2 linked regions of the Homo sapiens genome follow. The protein of the gene in region 1 interacts with the protein of each later gene in a biochemical or structural test. Each region holds a gene or a part of one and is shown in the gene's direction. Other genes may lie near its edges.

Evidence for each region. The genes of interacting proteins can lie anywhere in the genome.
Region 2: the proteins of IL1RN (region 1) and COPS4 form a complex in vitro, tested with the Homo sapiens proteins (one study listed by BioGRID).

What each region holds. Positions count from the first base shown.
Region 1 is NC_000002.12:113,129,686-113,135,636, forward strand, and holds the end of IL1RN (interleukin-1 receptor antagonist protein isoform 1 precursor), read left to right. Parts: intron 1-1,359; coding exon 1,360-1,472; intron 1,473-2,970; coding exon 2,971-3,186; 3' UTR 3,187-4,329; downstream 4,330-5,951. UniProt on the Homo sapiens protein: Anti-inflammatory antagonist of interleukin-1 family of proinflammatory cytokines such as interleukin-1beta/IL1B and interleukin-1alpha/IL1A.
Region 2 is NC_000004.12:83,037,454-83,046,487, forward strand, and holds part of COPS4 (COP9 signalosome complex subunit 4), read left to right. Parts: intron 1-8,172; coding exon 8,173-8,252; intron 8,253-9,034. UniProt on the Homo sapiens protein: Component of the COP9 signalosome complex (CSN), a complex involved in various cellular and developmental processes.

The sequences.
Region 1 (5,951 bases):
CAATGTATGTGGGCATCACGTCACTTTGCCCGTCTGTCTGCAGCAGCATGGCCTGCCTGCACAAACCCTAGGTGCAATGTCCTAATCCTTGTTGGGTCTTTGTATTCAAGTTTGAAGCTGGGAGGGCCTGGCTACTGAAGGGCACATATGAGGGCAGCCTGAAGAGGGTGTGGAGAGGTAGAGTCTAGGTCAGAGGTCAGTGCCTATAGGCACAGTGGTCCCAGGGCCACAGCTGGGAAGGGCAAATACCAGAAGGCAAGGTTGACCATTCCCTTCCTCAAGTGCCTATTAAGGCTCCATGTTCCTATGTTGTTCAAACCCTAACTCAATCCCAAATTAATCCACCATGTATAAGGTTGAGCTATGTCTCTTATTCCTGGACACCATACTCAGCCATATTCTGGTCCACACATTAAACAAGCTGGATGACCTTGAAGAAGCTTCACCCACTCTGTTCCTCAGCTTTCCCTTCAGTGGGATGATATCAACTGGACAACAGGATGTGCGATTCTTTTAGTTCCAGCCTTCCAGGATGTTTTCACTCCCCTGTTTGTTGTTGTAGGATGGTATTACCTCCACCTTCCCACCTTCCCTATGCCCTGGTTCTGTCTCCTGTGCCTCGCTCTGAAAGTGGATGAGACCTACAATTCCTGTCCTGGTAGTTCTCCTAATGAACACACTGAAGCACGAGGAAGCTGAGATTTTTGTTGCTACATGAGAGCATGGAGGCCTCTTAGGGAGAGAGGAGGTTCAGAGACTCCTAGGCTCCTGTGGAGCCCCACTCATGGCCTTGTTCATTTTCCCTGCCCCTCAGCAACACTCCTATTGACCTGGAGCACAGGTATCCTGGGGAAAGTGAGGGAAATATGGACATCACATGGAACAACATCCAGGAGACTCAGGCCTCTAGGAGTAACTGGGTAGTGTGCATCCTGGGGAAAGTGAGGGAAATATGGACATCACATGGAACAACATCCAGGAGACTCAGGCCTCTAGGAGTAACTGGGTAGTGTGCATCCTGGGGAAAGTGAGGGAAATATGGACATCACATGGAACAACATCCAGGAGACTCAGGCCTCTAGGAGTAACTGGGTAGTGTGCATCCTGGGGAAAGTGAGGGAAATATGGACATCACATGGAACAACATCCAGGAGACTCAGGCCTCTAGGAGTAACTGGGTAGTGTGCTTGGTTTAATCTTCTATTTACCTGCAGACCAGGAAGATGAGACCTCTCTGCCCTTCTGACCTCGGGATTTTAGTTTTGTGGGGACCAGGGGAGATAGAAAAATACCCGGGGTCTCTTCATTATTGCTGCTTCCTCTTCTATTAACCTGACCCTCCCCTCTGTTCTTCCCCAGAAAAGATAGATGTGGTACCCATTGAGCCTCATGCTCTGTTCTTGGGAATCCATGGAGGGAAGATGTGCCTGTCCTGTGTCAAGTCTGGTGATGAGACCAGACTCCAGCTGGAGGTAAAAACATGCTTTGGATCTCAAATCACCCCAAAACCCAGTGGCTTGAAACAACCAAAATTTTTTCTTATGATTCTGTGGGTTGACCAGGATTAGCTGGGTAGTTCTGTTCCATGTGGTGGAACATGCTGGGGTCACTTTGGAAGCTGCATTCAGCAGAGTGCCTGGCTTGCGCTGGGCATCCAAGGTGGTCCCTCATCCTCCAGGCTCTCTTTCCATGTGATCTCTCAGTGTTTAAGAGTTAGTTGGAGCTTCCTTACAGCATGGCGGCTGACTTCCAAAAGGGATTATTCCAAAAAGAGCCTCAACATGCAGGCGCTTATTATGACTTCTGCTTGCATCATCCTATTGGCCAAAGCCAGTCACGTGGCTAAGTCTAGCCCCCTGTGAGAGGAGACTGCATAAGAGTGTGAACACCAGGAGACACGGTCACTGGGGGCCACCACTGTAACCATCTACCACAGGACCTGAATCTCTGTGTGCTACTCCCTTGCTCAAGGGCCCCCCTACCCACGCAGACCTGCTGTCTTCTAGCAAAGCCCATCCTCAGGACCTTTCTCTTCCAATCCTTATTGACTCAAATTGATTAGTTGGTGCTCCACCCAGAGCCCTGTGCTCCTTTATCTCATGTAATGTTAATGGGTTTCCCAGCCCTGGGAAAACATGGCTTTGTCTCAGGGGCTTGCTGGATGCAAGCTTAACCTCAATGTGAGTGGCCATACTGTGGCACTGTCCCATCCCTCACCAGGGACACTGTTCTGGAGGGTGACTGCCTGTTCTGTGAGGAGTGGGGATGGCTAGGACATTGCATGGAACACACCACCACCCCATCTTCTCAGAGCTCAAACCCTGACAGAACACCAGCTCCACAGGCCTTGGCTTCTGCTGATGGTGCCGTGTATTTACCAGACTTAGTGGTCCAAGGCCAGAGTGGCCAGATTTCCCAAAGTCAAGGTGTGACAGTGGGACAGCCTCTTTGTGTCTTTGCTGTCCTAAGAAACCTGGGCCAGGCCAGGCGCAGTGGCTCACGCCTGTAATCCCAGCACTTTGAGAAGCCAAGGTGGGCAGATCACGAGGTCAGGAGTTTGAGACCAGCCTGGCCAACATGGTGAAACCCTGTCTCTATTAAAAATAGAAAACATTAGACAGGTGTGGTGGTGCATGCCTGTAATCCCAGCTACTCAGGAGGCTGAGGCAGGAGAATCGCTTGAACCCAGGAGGTGGAGGTTGCAGTGAGCCGAGATTGTGCCACTGCACTCCAGCCTAGGCGACAGAGCAAGACTCCGTCTCGGGAAAATTAATTAATAAATAAATAAACCTAGGTCCCAGAGTCCCACAGAATGGCAGACAGGAGCACCTGGGGGCTTTTAGGGTATGGCATTTCCCCTGTACTAACTCTGGGCTGTCCAGAGGGCCATTTCATGGCGTGGAGTGGAGAGGGAGGCAGCACAGGACTTCCTAGGCCTCAGCTCTCACCTGCCCATCTTTTGATTTCCAGGCAGTTAACATCACTGACCTGAGCGAGAACAGAAAGCAGGACAAGCGCTTCGCCTTCATCCGCTCAGACAGTGGCCCCACCACCAGTTTTGAGTCTGCCGCCTGCCCCGGTTGGTTCCTCTGCACAGCGATGGAAGCTGACCAGCCCGTCAGCCTCACCAATATGCCTGACGAAGGCGTCATGGTCACCAAATTCTACTTCCAGGAGGACGAGTAGTACTGCCCAGGCCTGCCTGTTCCCATTCTTGCATGGCAAGGACTGCAGGGACTGCCAGTCCCCCTGCCCCAGGGCTCCCGGCTATGGGGGCACTGAGGACCAGCCATTGAGGGGTGGACCCTCAGAAGGCGTCACAACAACCTGGTCACAGGACTCTGCCTCCTCTTCAACTGACCAGCCTCCATGCTGCCTCCAGAATGGTCTTTCTAATGTGTGAATCAGAGCACAGCAGCCCCTGCACAAAGCCCTTCCATGTCGCCTCTGCATTCAGGATCAAACCCCGACCACCTGCCCAACCTGCTCTCCTCTTGCCACTGCCTCTTCCTCCCTCATTCCACCTTCCCATGCCCTGGATCCATCAGGCCACTTGATGACCCCCAACCAAGTGGCTCCCACACCCTGTTTTACAAAAAAGAAAAGACCAGTCCATGAGGGAGGTTTTTAAGGGTTTGTGGAAAATGAAAATTAGGATTTCATGATTTTTTTTTTTCAGTCCCCGTGAAGGAGAGCCCTTCATTTGGAGATTATGTTCTTTCGGGGAGAGGCTGAGGACTTAAAATATTCCTGCATTTGTGAAATGATGGTGAAAGTAAGTGGTAGCTTTTCCCTTCTTTTTCTTCTTTTTTTGTGATGTCCCAACTTGTAAAAATTAAAAGTTATGGTACTATGTTAGCCCCATAATTTTTTTTTTCCTTTTAAAACACTTCCATAATCTGGACTCCTCTGTCCAGGCACTGCTGCCCAGCCTCCAAGCTCCATCTCCACTCCAGATTTTTTACAGCTGCCTGCAGTACTTTACCTCCTATCAGAAGTTTCTCAGCTCCCAAGGCTCTGAGCAAATGTGGCTCCTGGGGGTTCTTTCTTCCTCTGCTGAAGGAATAAATTGCTCCTTGACATTGTAGAGCTTCTGGCACTTGGAGACTTGTATGAAAGATGGCTGTGCCTCTGCCTGTCTCCCCCACCGGGCTGGGAGCTCTGCAGAGCAGGAAACATGACTCGTATATGTCTCAGGTCCCTGCAGGGCCAAGCACCTAGCCTCGCTCTTGGCAGGTACTCAGCGAATGAATGCTGTATATGTTGGGTGCAAAGTTCCCTACTTCCTGTGACTTCAGCTCTGTTTTACAATAAAATCTTGAAAATGCCTATATTGTTGACTATGTCCTTGGCCTTGACAGGCTTTGGGTATAGAGTGCTGAGGAAACTGAAAGACCAATGTGTCTTTCTTACCCCAGAGGCTGGCGCCTGGCCTCTTCTCTGAGAGTTCTTTTCTTCCTTCAGCCTCACTCTCCCTGGATAACATGAGAGCAAATCTCTCTGCAAAAAAGATATGGGGCAGCACTGTCCACAACAGCCTCTGCTGGAAACAACCCAAGCACCCATCACAGAATGAATTAGTACATCATGTATCTGCACACAACACAGTGCTCCTTGGCAAAGAAAATGAATGAATTACAGCCAGCTGCACCTCACAAGACAGATAATCTTACAAACATCATGTGGGTACAAGAATCACAAAAGCATGCATAGAGTGTGATTCCATTTCTACAAAGTTCAAAACGGGCAACATGGGGCTGTTGTGTGGAGGGCTGTGGAAACAGGTGGTGCAGAGAGAAGCAAGGCCATGCTCTGTCTGAAGGCCCAGTGACACTTGGCCCCTGCGAGAGAGAGTGGCAGGCAGGAGCACCTGGGGGATTTTAGGGTCCAGACAACATTCTATTTCTTGGCATGGATGCAGTTAGGCGGTTTTCTGTATGTATATTTTATTTCACAATACCTAGAAAATAAAAAGACTTGCCCCCCAACAACCAGGGTGTAAAGAAAGGAGCATCTGGGAAATTATGAGATTAGTGAATGGAGTATTGAATTTGTCCCCATAGGTGGGAGTGCAAGACCATGAGTGACCACTTATCAAACACACCTCAGTAAACAGTCAGGAGAGTGAGGAGTGTGGTCCTTTCACCTGCCCAGGTTGTTTCTGTTAGATTCTGGGCTTGGTCTCTGGAGTCCAAGAGGCAGGCCCCAGTGAGGTCATGCACTTGCTGTCTGATTTTGGCCAAGTCACCTCCCTTTGTGGGGACTGTTCCTCATTTGTTTGAGGGGAATGTTGATTTGGATGGGGATTTTCCAAACAGAGCTCCTTGGACCCTTCCCTCTAAGGTCTCTGGAAATGGGAAACCCTGCAGAGGGGAGGATAAATGGGCCAGGATTCATCCCTTGAACCCTGTTCCCAACAGAGCCCTCTGTTTTTCTCTTCTTTACAACTTGGACCTCCCATGGGACTTTGTTTGAAAGGGAGACTTCATTGCTAAAAGCAAACTAAACTAAATAGGCTAAAAGGCAACAAACTGGAGAAAATGTTTAAGGTCTTCTCTAGATCTAAGATCCTATGACGTTGAGGAGGTCATCCAACATCTCTGAGTTTTCTCTTTCTTGTATATAAAATGGAAGTAGCTGGCAGGGCAGGGCATGTGTCGTTGATATATTTTTAATCCTGGTAAAAGGAGGAGGTTCAAGGCAGAAAACTCATCAAAGCTTAATGACAACAATAGCAGCTAACATTTGTGAGGCTCTAAGGTAAAACCCAAGGCTAAGACTCTTCATGCAAACTAGGTCAAGCAGCAAGCTACAGGTTAGAAACAGGCAAGGCAGCAAAACAGTCACATGGGTGAACTCTGGGACTCTGCAGTCACACTCTGACTCTCCTGCTTGCACTGGGTGCTCATAAGCAAGCTAGTTAACACCTCAGAGCCTTGGTTTTCCCACCA
Region 2 (9,034 bases), on another chromosome or scaffold:
TAATGTGCTTGATAACTGATAGCCAGTGCAGTCTTAGCCATAACTCCTTCAGAGCTGCTTTCTGAGAAAAGTCTTGGCCTTGCCTGCATTTCCTATGTGGGCAAGAATGTAGCAGGATATTTATCCTTACAACAACATCAGTTCTACCAGCTATATGCTTTAAGAGAAATACCCTTGAAATATATCAGTGTGTTTTTTTTTAATGTATTTTTTCTTGTATGTACTTTTAATGAAGGTTTTTGGGTGTTTTTTTTAGGAGCTGAGTAACAAAGGATTCCATATTAAAGAATAATGGAATACATTGTTTCTAAAACATCAATACTGTGTGTTCCTAGCAATTGGGATATCTGTAACAGTAGTTGTTCAATAAACGTGGTTGAATTAATGAATAGCTAGAAAGGGGCAGTGCTTGTATTTGAATCCAGGTTCATCTACTCTAAAAAGCTCATTTTAAACCTACCAGACTATGCTCGTTTTCTTGTTAAAAACTCAGTTAGAAATGCTTTCCCATAACTGTGAATTAACACAGCTGTCTAAAGTTTATATAAGAAATTAGCCAGAGGAAAAGCATTTCCTCCATTTTATAGGCTGCTTTTGTGCATATTATGCATTGTATTTATTATCTCACATAAAGCTTTAGAATAGGAGAGCCACAACGGAGGATAGACTTTATTGAGGATAGCCTCAAAGGCCCCTTCTAACTCAGATTCTGATTCTCTCTTTGTTGTCCCAAACACAACAGTTTTAGTGGTTTTCATCTCTAGAGTGAAAGTCAATAACATCTAGAGTTTACTGTGCGAAGCACAACATTACTTACATTTAAAAATCCTTAACAAGTAGGAGTAGGTGATAGTAGTGATATTATTTACATTATAATAAGAGAAAACCAAAGTACAGAGTTGAAATACCTTGCTCTGAGGTCACACAGCTAGTGGTGAAGCTAGAAGACAGTCCATATCTGCTTGCCTATGAGCCCTTAACTCTAAACAAACACATCTACCTTTTTGGCCTTATTTTCACAAAAAAAAATTGACTACACTTCAGATAGTGATTATTTTTGCCTAGAATGCCTGTCTTCCTACTGTTATTAAATTGAAATACTTAGAATGTTTAAAGATCAACCCCATCCAATGATTTCTCTCTCCTAAAAATTATATTAGCACTTACCTGTTTTTTTTGTTTGTTTGTTTGTTTTGTTTTGTTTTGAGATGGAGTTTCACTCTTGTTGCCTAGGCTGGAGTGCAGTGGCGCGATCTCGGCTCACTGCAACCTCTGCCTCCCGGGTTCAACCGATTCTTCTGCCTCAGCCTCCCAAGTAGCTGGGACTACAGGTGCATGCCACCACACCCGACTACTTTTTTTTGTATTTTTAGTAGAGACAGGGTTTCACCATGTTGGCCAGGATGGTCTCGATCTTTTGACCTTGTGATCCACCTGCCTTGGCCTCCCAAAGTGCTGGGATTACAGGCGTGAGCCACCGCGCCTGGCCAGCACTTACCTGTTTTTAAGATTTTGTCTTTAATTTTGTGTAGCTTCATTATGATATGTCTGTGGATTTGTTTTTACTTTTCTATGTCAGTTACCCTTTGCTGTGAAATAAACCCCAAAACTTAGGGCTTAAAACAACAGTCACTTATTTAGCTTATAATTCTGTAGGTTGGTAGTTTGGATTGGGCCCAGCTGTATGGTTCTTTTCTGCTCCACGTGGTCTTGGTTCCACATGGGCTCCCATGTGGGTCTATAGTTAGCTGCCAGCCAGGCCAGGTAGGCAGCTCTGCTTCTGTGGATTGGCTGGCTTGTTGGCTGGGGCAATATAGTTGACTGGGCTACATATCTCATTAGCCAGTATGTTAGTCTGAGCCTGTTCATGTGACAGCAGCAGGGTTCCAAAAGACAAACACATACAAGGCCTCTCGAGGTCTGGGCTCAGAACTAGCACTTCATTTCTACCACGTTTTATTGGTTAACCCCAGATTCAAGGGGTAGGGAAATAAACTCTACCTTTTGATATGAAGAGCTACAAAGTTGTATTGTAAAGGGACATGGGTACTGGGAGTGAAATTATATTGTGGCCGTTTTTTGTAAGCACTCTGTCACATTATCCTGGTTAAGCTTCACTGGGTTTCCTGAATCAATGGATTAAATCATTTCATCAGTCTTGAGATGTCTTCAGTTATATCTCTTTATTTTATTTTAGAGACAGGGTCTTGCTCTGTTGCCCTGGCTTGAGTGCAGTAGAGAGATCATGGCTTACTACAGCCTTAACATGCTTGGCTCAAGCAATCTTCTCGCCTTAGCCTCCTGAGTAGCTGGGACTATAGGCACGTGACACCATGCCTGGCTAATTTAAAAACATTTTTTTTGGTACAGATGGGGTCTCCCTATGTTGCCCAGGCAGGTCTCGAACTCCTGGGCTCAAGGGATTCTCCTGCCTCGGCCTACAAAAGTGTTGGGATTACAGGTGTGGGCTACTGTGCTTGGCCTGTATCTCTTTAAATGTTGCCTCTGCCCCATTCTGTTTCTCCTCTAGGCTCCGGTGAAATCCCTGTCAGGCCCACTGACTATAACCTCTAGGCCTCTTACTCTGTCTTTTCCATTTCAATGCTTTATTCTGGATTAGTTCTTCAGGCCTACCTTCTAGTTTATCACTTCTTCAACTGTGTTTAATCTGCCGTTAAGTACTCCATTGAGTTTCTAAGTTGGGTTGTATTTTTTAGCTCTGTAATTTCTGGTGGTTCTTTTTTCCAATGATACTTTTTATGGCTCCTGGTCTGTTGCTGAAACTTTAAAGCTTGTCTTTATCCCCATGAACATTGTAAGCATAATTGTATCATGCTCTTTCTGATAACTCCAGTCAGTATTTGACGTTTTGGTTGTTGCGATTGTCTGTTGCTTTTGTTGATTCTAGAGAGAAATTTCATTACCTGAGGGTGCTAACAGTGTATAATCAAGGCTTCAGAATTTTTTTGGTTTACCTGGGTGGTCTTGGGATAGAATTTGTAACCTTACTTCCAAAGTGTGTGTCTCCTCCTTTGGCAGAATATGGAACTTCCATTCCCATTTGTGCAGCTCTATTAGTCTGCCAGAAATGGCAGCTTGCTTCTCAGTGCTTCCAGCAGATTCGCAGTGAGCCCACCTTCTCCTCCCTACAAGAAGTGCCACTCTACCTCTCAGCCATCTTTCCACAGTCAGCAAATGCCTTTAGACAGAATATATGGTTTATCTTATTTTCCTCATTTTACCTTTCTTGTTAGGATTTTATGCAATTACATTTTTTTTTTCATTTCTTTCAGCTTTTTATGTTGGCTTTTTTTTTTTTTTTTTTGAGGGAGGGTTGGTCCAGTCGTTTAGTTCACCATTACTGTAAGTGGAAGATCTGTTAATACCTACCTTTACCACCCATTGTGATCTTAAATGATGACTGTGGTACATTTTCATGCTTTATTTATCTCCAGATTCCTTTCAAGTGCCAAGAAATTAAGAATCAACATACTGAATTTGGTTCATATACATTAAAGATGCTCAATTCACTGATGATAAATGGATAGGAGAGATGTATGATGCCTTAGTAATAAAACTTATTTTCCTCCATAAGTTTTTTTTTTTTGTTTTTTGTTTTTTTTTTTTGAGATGGAATCTCACTCTGTCGCCCAGGCTGGAGTGCAGTGGCATGATCTTGGCTTACTGCAATCTCCACCTCCCGGGTTCAAGCGATTCTTCTGGCTCAGCCTCCTGAGTAGCTGGGACTACAGGCACACGCCACCACGCCCGGCTAATTTTTGTGTTTTTAGTAGAGACAGAGTTTCACCATGTTGGGCAGGCTGGTCTTGAACTCCTGACCTCAGGTGATCCGCCCACCTCAGCCTCCCAAAGTGCTGAGATTACAGGCGTGAGCCACTGCGCCCGGCCAAATTTTTTTAAGGAAGAAAATATTTGGCACTTGTCACATTCTCCATATCAGTCACATTTCTCTTTGTATACTGAGTACTCATATAAAAAGCTATTATTATCTACGAAGCCTTATTTGACAAATCTAGTCCATTTTTGTTTTACTCTCACTCTGTCACAGGCTGGAGTACAGTGGCTCACTGCAGCCTCCACCTCCTGGGTTCAAGTGATTTTCCTGCCTCAGCCTCCCGTGTAGCTGGGACTTACAGTTGTGCACCATCACACTCGGCTAATTTTTGTATTTTTAGTAGAGATGGGGTTTCTCCGTGTTGGCCAGGCTGGTCTTGAACTCCTGGCCTCAAGCGATCGTCTTCCTTGGCCTCCCAAAGTGCTGGGATTGCAGGTGTGAGCCACTTCACCTGGCCTTACTCTCTTTTGAGTTAATATATTACCTCTTCATTTATCATATTGCTTATATTGTTCAGTTTTATCATAACTTTTGTTTTTGTATTATTGTAATTTAATACTTTTTTTTTTTTTTGAGATAGAATTTCGCTCTGTCACCCAGGCTGAAGTGCAGCAGCGGGATCTCAGCTCACTGCAACCTCTGCCTCCCAGGTTCAAGTGATTCTCGTGCCTCAGCCTCCCGAGTAGCTGAGATTACAGGCACGTGCCACCACACCTGGCTAATTTTTGTATTTTTAGTAGAGATGAGGTTTCACCATGTTGGCCAGGCTGGTCTCGAACTCTTGACCTCAAGTGATTGGCCCACCTCAGCCTCCCAAAGTGCTGGGATTACAGGCGTGAGCCACCGCACCTGACCATATTGTAATTTAACACTTGACATATTAACTTTTTATTTTTAATCTTCCCCTTTGTCTTCTCAGCCATATGATCTTCAAATACAAAGGTCATTTAAAAACTTTTTAGTATCATACACAGAATCTCATATAGCATCTTAAAATGCCTAAGGACTCAATTAACACCTTGGGGTGATTTTATATGGCAGTATTAAATTTCTGTTTAAGTTCCTGGTTTAAAACAGGTTTGTTAGTCATTTTATGTTATTCTGAAAAAGTAATCTCTGTTGTTAGATACTAGAATTTACATATTAGAGAAGCAAGGGAGCATGTAATGTAGCCACAGTGCTGTACCTCACTTTTTTTAATTAATTAATTTTTTTTTTTTTTTGAGACAAGGTCTTGCTCTGTCCAGGCACACGCCACCACAGCTGGCTAATTTTTGTAATTTTTTTTTATTTTTAAAATTTTTATTTTTGAGATGAGATATCACTCTGTTGCCCAGGTTGGAGTTGCAGTGGCAAGATCTCAGCTCACTGCAACCTCCACCTCCTGGGCTCAGGCAATCCTCCCCCCTCAGCCTCCCAAGTAGCTGGCACCACAGGTGTGTGCCACAATGCCTGGCTAATTTTTTTATATTTTTGGTAGAGATGAGGTTTTACTATGTTGCTCAGACTGGTCTCGAACTCCTGAGATCAAGCCATCTGACTGCCTTGGCCTCCCAAAGTGCTGGGATTACAGGCATGAGCCACCACGCCCAACCAATTTTTGTATTTTTTTTTTTTTTTTGTAGAGATGAGGTTTCACCACATTGCCCAGGCTGGTCTTGAACTCCTGGACTCAAGTGATCTACTTTCTTTGGCCTCCCAAAGTGGTAGGATTACAGGCATGAGCCACTGCGACTGGCCCTCAATTTATTCATTTATAAAATTGGGAGTTTATGTACACAATTTCTAAGGCCTCTATAAGTTATATAATTTGATGAGTATAAAACTTTGATCACTTTTTAGGTTGGTTTATTTTCATTTTTTCTTCCTATTCCCAATACAGATTAGTTGATTGATTATGAAACTATGTGTTAAAACTTAGGTTAGGCCAGGCACAGTGGCTCAAGCCTGTAATCCCAGCACTTGGGGAGGCTGAGTTGGGAGGATTGCTTGAGTCCAGAAGTTGGAGACCAGTTTGGGCAATGTAGTGAGACCCCATCTCTACAAAAAGAAAAGAACAGTTAACCAGGGGTCGTGGCACATGCCTGTAGTCCTAGCTACTCAGGAGGCAGAAGCAGGAGGATTGTTTGAGCCCAGGAATTGGAGGTTACAGTGAGCTATGATCATGTCACTGCACTCTAGCCTGGGCGACAGAGTGAGACCCTGTCTCAAAAAAAAAAAAAAAAAAAAAAAAAAAACCATAACAACCACAAAACAACTTAGGTTAATTAGCAAATTTATATAAGTGAGACACTATTACCTTTGAATATAATGTTGTTAGTATAAAATAATCTAAGAGGATATAAAAGTAAGAGATCTTAGCAATAACCCTTGATTTAATTAAATATGAAAAAAATAAAAAATAACAAACCATTGAATGTATAACTTATCTGAAAGCATGCCCAGGGCCATAAAGTAATTTATCTTTTAAGGACCCTCAAACTTAGCAATATTGAAAATATAATTTTCTAAAAACTTAATATTTCCTTGCTTTCTTAGAATAATTTATTTCTTCTTTTGGAATTTGCTATCTTTTCTATCCGTATATCTGCTTTCTTAAAGTCACTTTGATTCATTGTGGTTTTGAGAAATCAGATAACCAAGGTTGTGAGAATTTTGTATGAGTTGAGAGTCAGTAATGCTGAGTGGTAGCTTGAGGGTGTGCCCTACAAAATAAAAGTCATAAATCTGAATGAGTTCAGGTTCTATTTTTGTATATTTATTTCGTAACTCTATTCTGGATGACTTTCCGAATAATTGCAATGCTATGAGGTTTGTAAAATGTATTTAGTGCTTTTAAAAAATATTACAATTGGCTGGGCGCGGTGGCTCACGCCTGTAATCCCAGCACTGTGGGAGCCCGAGGTGGGCGGATCACCTGAGGTCAGGAGTTCAAGACCAGCCTGGCCAACATGCGGAAACCCCATCTCTACCAAAAATACAAAAATTAGCCGCACTTGGTGGTGCATGCCTGTAGTCCTCGCTACTCTGGAGGCTGAGGCAGGAGAATTGCTTGAACCTGGGAGGCGGAGGTTGCAGTGAGCCGAGATTGCGCCAGTGCACTCCAGCCTGGGTGACAGAGCAAGACTCCATCTCAAAAAAAAAAAAAAAAAAATGATTAAGACAAAAGAGATAAAGATTAGTATAGGCCGGGCACGGTGGCTAACGCCTGTAATCCCAGCACTTTGGGAGGCTGAGGTGGGCGGATCATGAGGTCGGGAGTTTGAGACCAGCCTGACCACATGGTGAAACCCCATCTTTACTAAAAATACAAAAATTAGCCAGGCGTGGTGGCGCATGCCTGTAATCCCAGCTACTCAGGAGGCTGAGGCAGGAGAATCGCTTGAACCTGGGAGGTGGAGGTTGCAGTGAGCCAAGATTGCGCCACTGCACTCCAGCCTGGGTGACAGAGCGAGACTCCGTCTTCAAAAACAACAACAACAACAACAACAAAAGAATAGTATAACACTCATATACTAACCACTCGTTAAGAAATAAAACATTACTAATACCGTTGAATATTTGAGTGCTTATGATGTGCCAAGAATTGAGATAATTGTCTACATAGCAGAGAACAAAACACAAGAATTCCTGTCCTCGTGGAGCTTGTGTGGTCACAGATATTAGGTAGAATAGTTATTAGATCTGAATGCAAATAAAGAATAAATAGGTACTGTCTGACAGCATAAATGGTATTCTATCAGTGCATTTGGCTTGGCGAAGTTTATTTTGTACAGACTAAGACATTCAGTCTTTAATGTTTGGTTTCGTTGCCTGGTCAACATTATCCTATTGCTGGTGACCCTACATACATTACGTCTGTAAGAGGAAAAGATTCAGGTCACCTCAAATAATGTTTTTGTGTGTCTATGTATTGCACAGTTGAAGGAAATATAGCTTATCTTTTAAGGCATTTGAAAGGAAATTGACTTTGTAGTTTAAATTCAAAAATAAAACCTTCAAGAAAAAGTGACACCTTAGATTCAGTAACAGAATTATAGATTCATTCTTTCTTGTGATGAGCTTGAAAACTTAAAAAATTCTGGTATACTATACTGAAAACTAGATGAAGTGGTACCTTATATAATTATAGATTTAATATCTCTTGTGATAGACTAGAAACTTAAAAAAAAATCTGTGGTATACTATAAAGAAAACCACAAACTATAGTACTATGAAAGAAACCAAGGTATGTAGAAATGAATAAATACACATCAAAGTTTGCATTAGAAAATATAGTACCCTCAGAACATTATTTTCATTTGGTATTGTTGTAGGTATCGTCAGATCCTGGAAAAAGCCATTCAGTTATCTGGAGCAGAACAACTAGAAGCTTTGAAAGCTTTTGTGGAAGCAAGTAAGTGAAATGGAAATTTCATGCTTGCCTTGTATTACTGAGCTAGGACTTTAAAGTTCTCTCAAGCCTTGTTTTGTATCAAATTATCAATATTAAATATGCATTGAGATTGATTGATTTTAGAATTTAAACTGTTTACAACTTGATTAATTTTCAGTGAATTATCTTCAGAATTACAATCCTAATTAAAGTTTTGTATGTTTATTGTTATAATAGCTGATAAGGGACAATATAGCATAATAGTAAAGAGAATAGTTTGGATTCAAATCCTGGTATGCTATTTTATGAGCTGTGTGATCTTGGGTCAATTATTTAACCTCTCTGTGCCTCCTTTTCCTCTTTAAAATGTACTCTGTAGTACATCTAATGTACCTAAAATGTACTCTATAGTACATTACTGTACTACAGGGTAGTACAGTACTGTACTTTGAGAAGTGTCTGCTTATGTCCCTTGTCAATGTTTTAATGGGGTTGTTTTCTTAATGTTCAACATCACTAATCATCAGAGAAATGCAAATCAATGTGGGATGCCATCTAATATTAGTCAGAATGGCTACTATTAAAAAGTAAAAAAATAACAAATTCTGGTTAGACTTCAGAGAAAATGAAATGCTTATACACTGTTGGTGAGAATGTAAATTAGTTCAGCCACTGTGAAAAGCAGTTTGGAGATTATTCAAAGAATTTAAAGCAGAAGTACCATTCAACCAGCAATTCCATTACTGAGTATATATCCAAAAGAAAATTAAAAATTCCACAAAAAGAAACCCCACATGCACTTG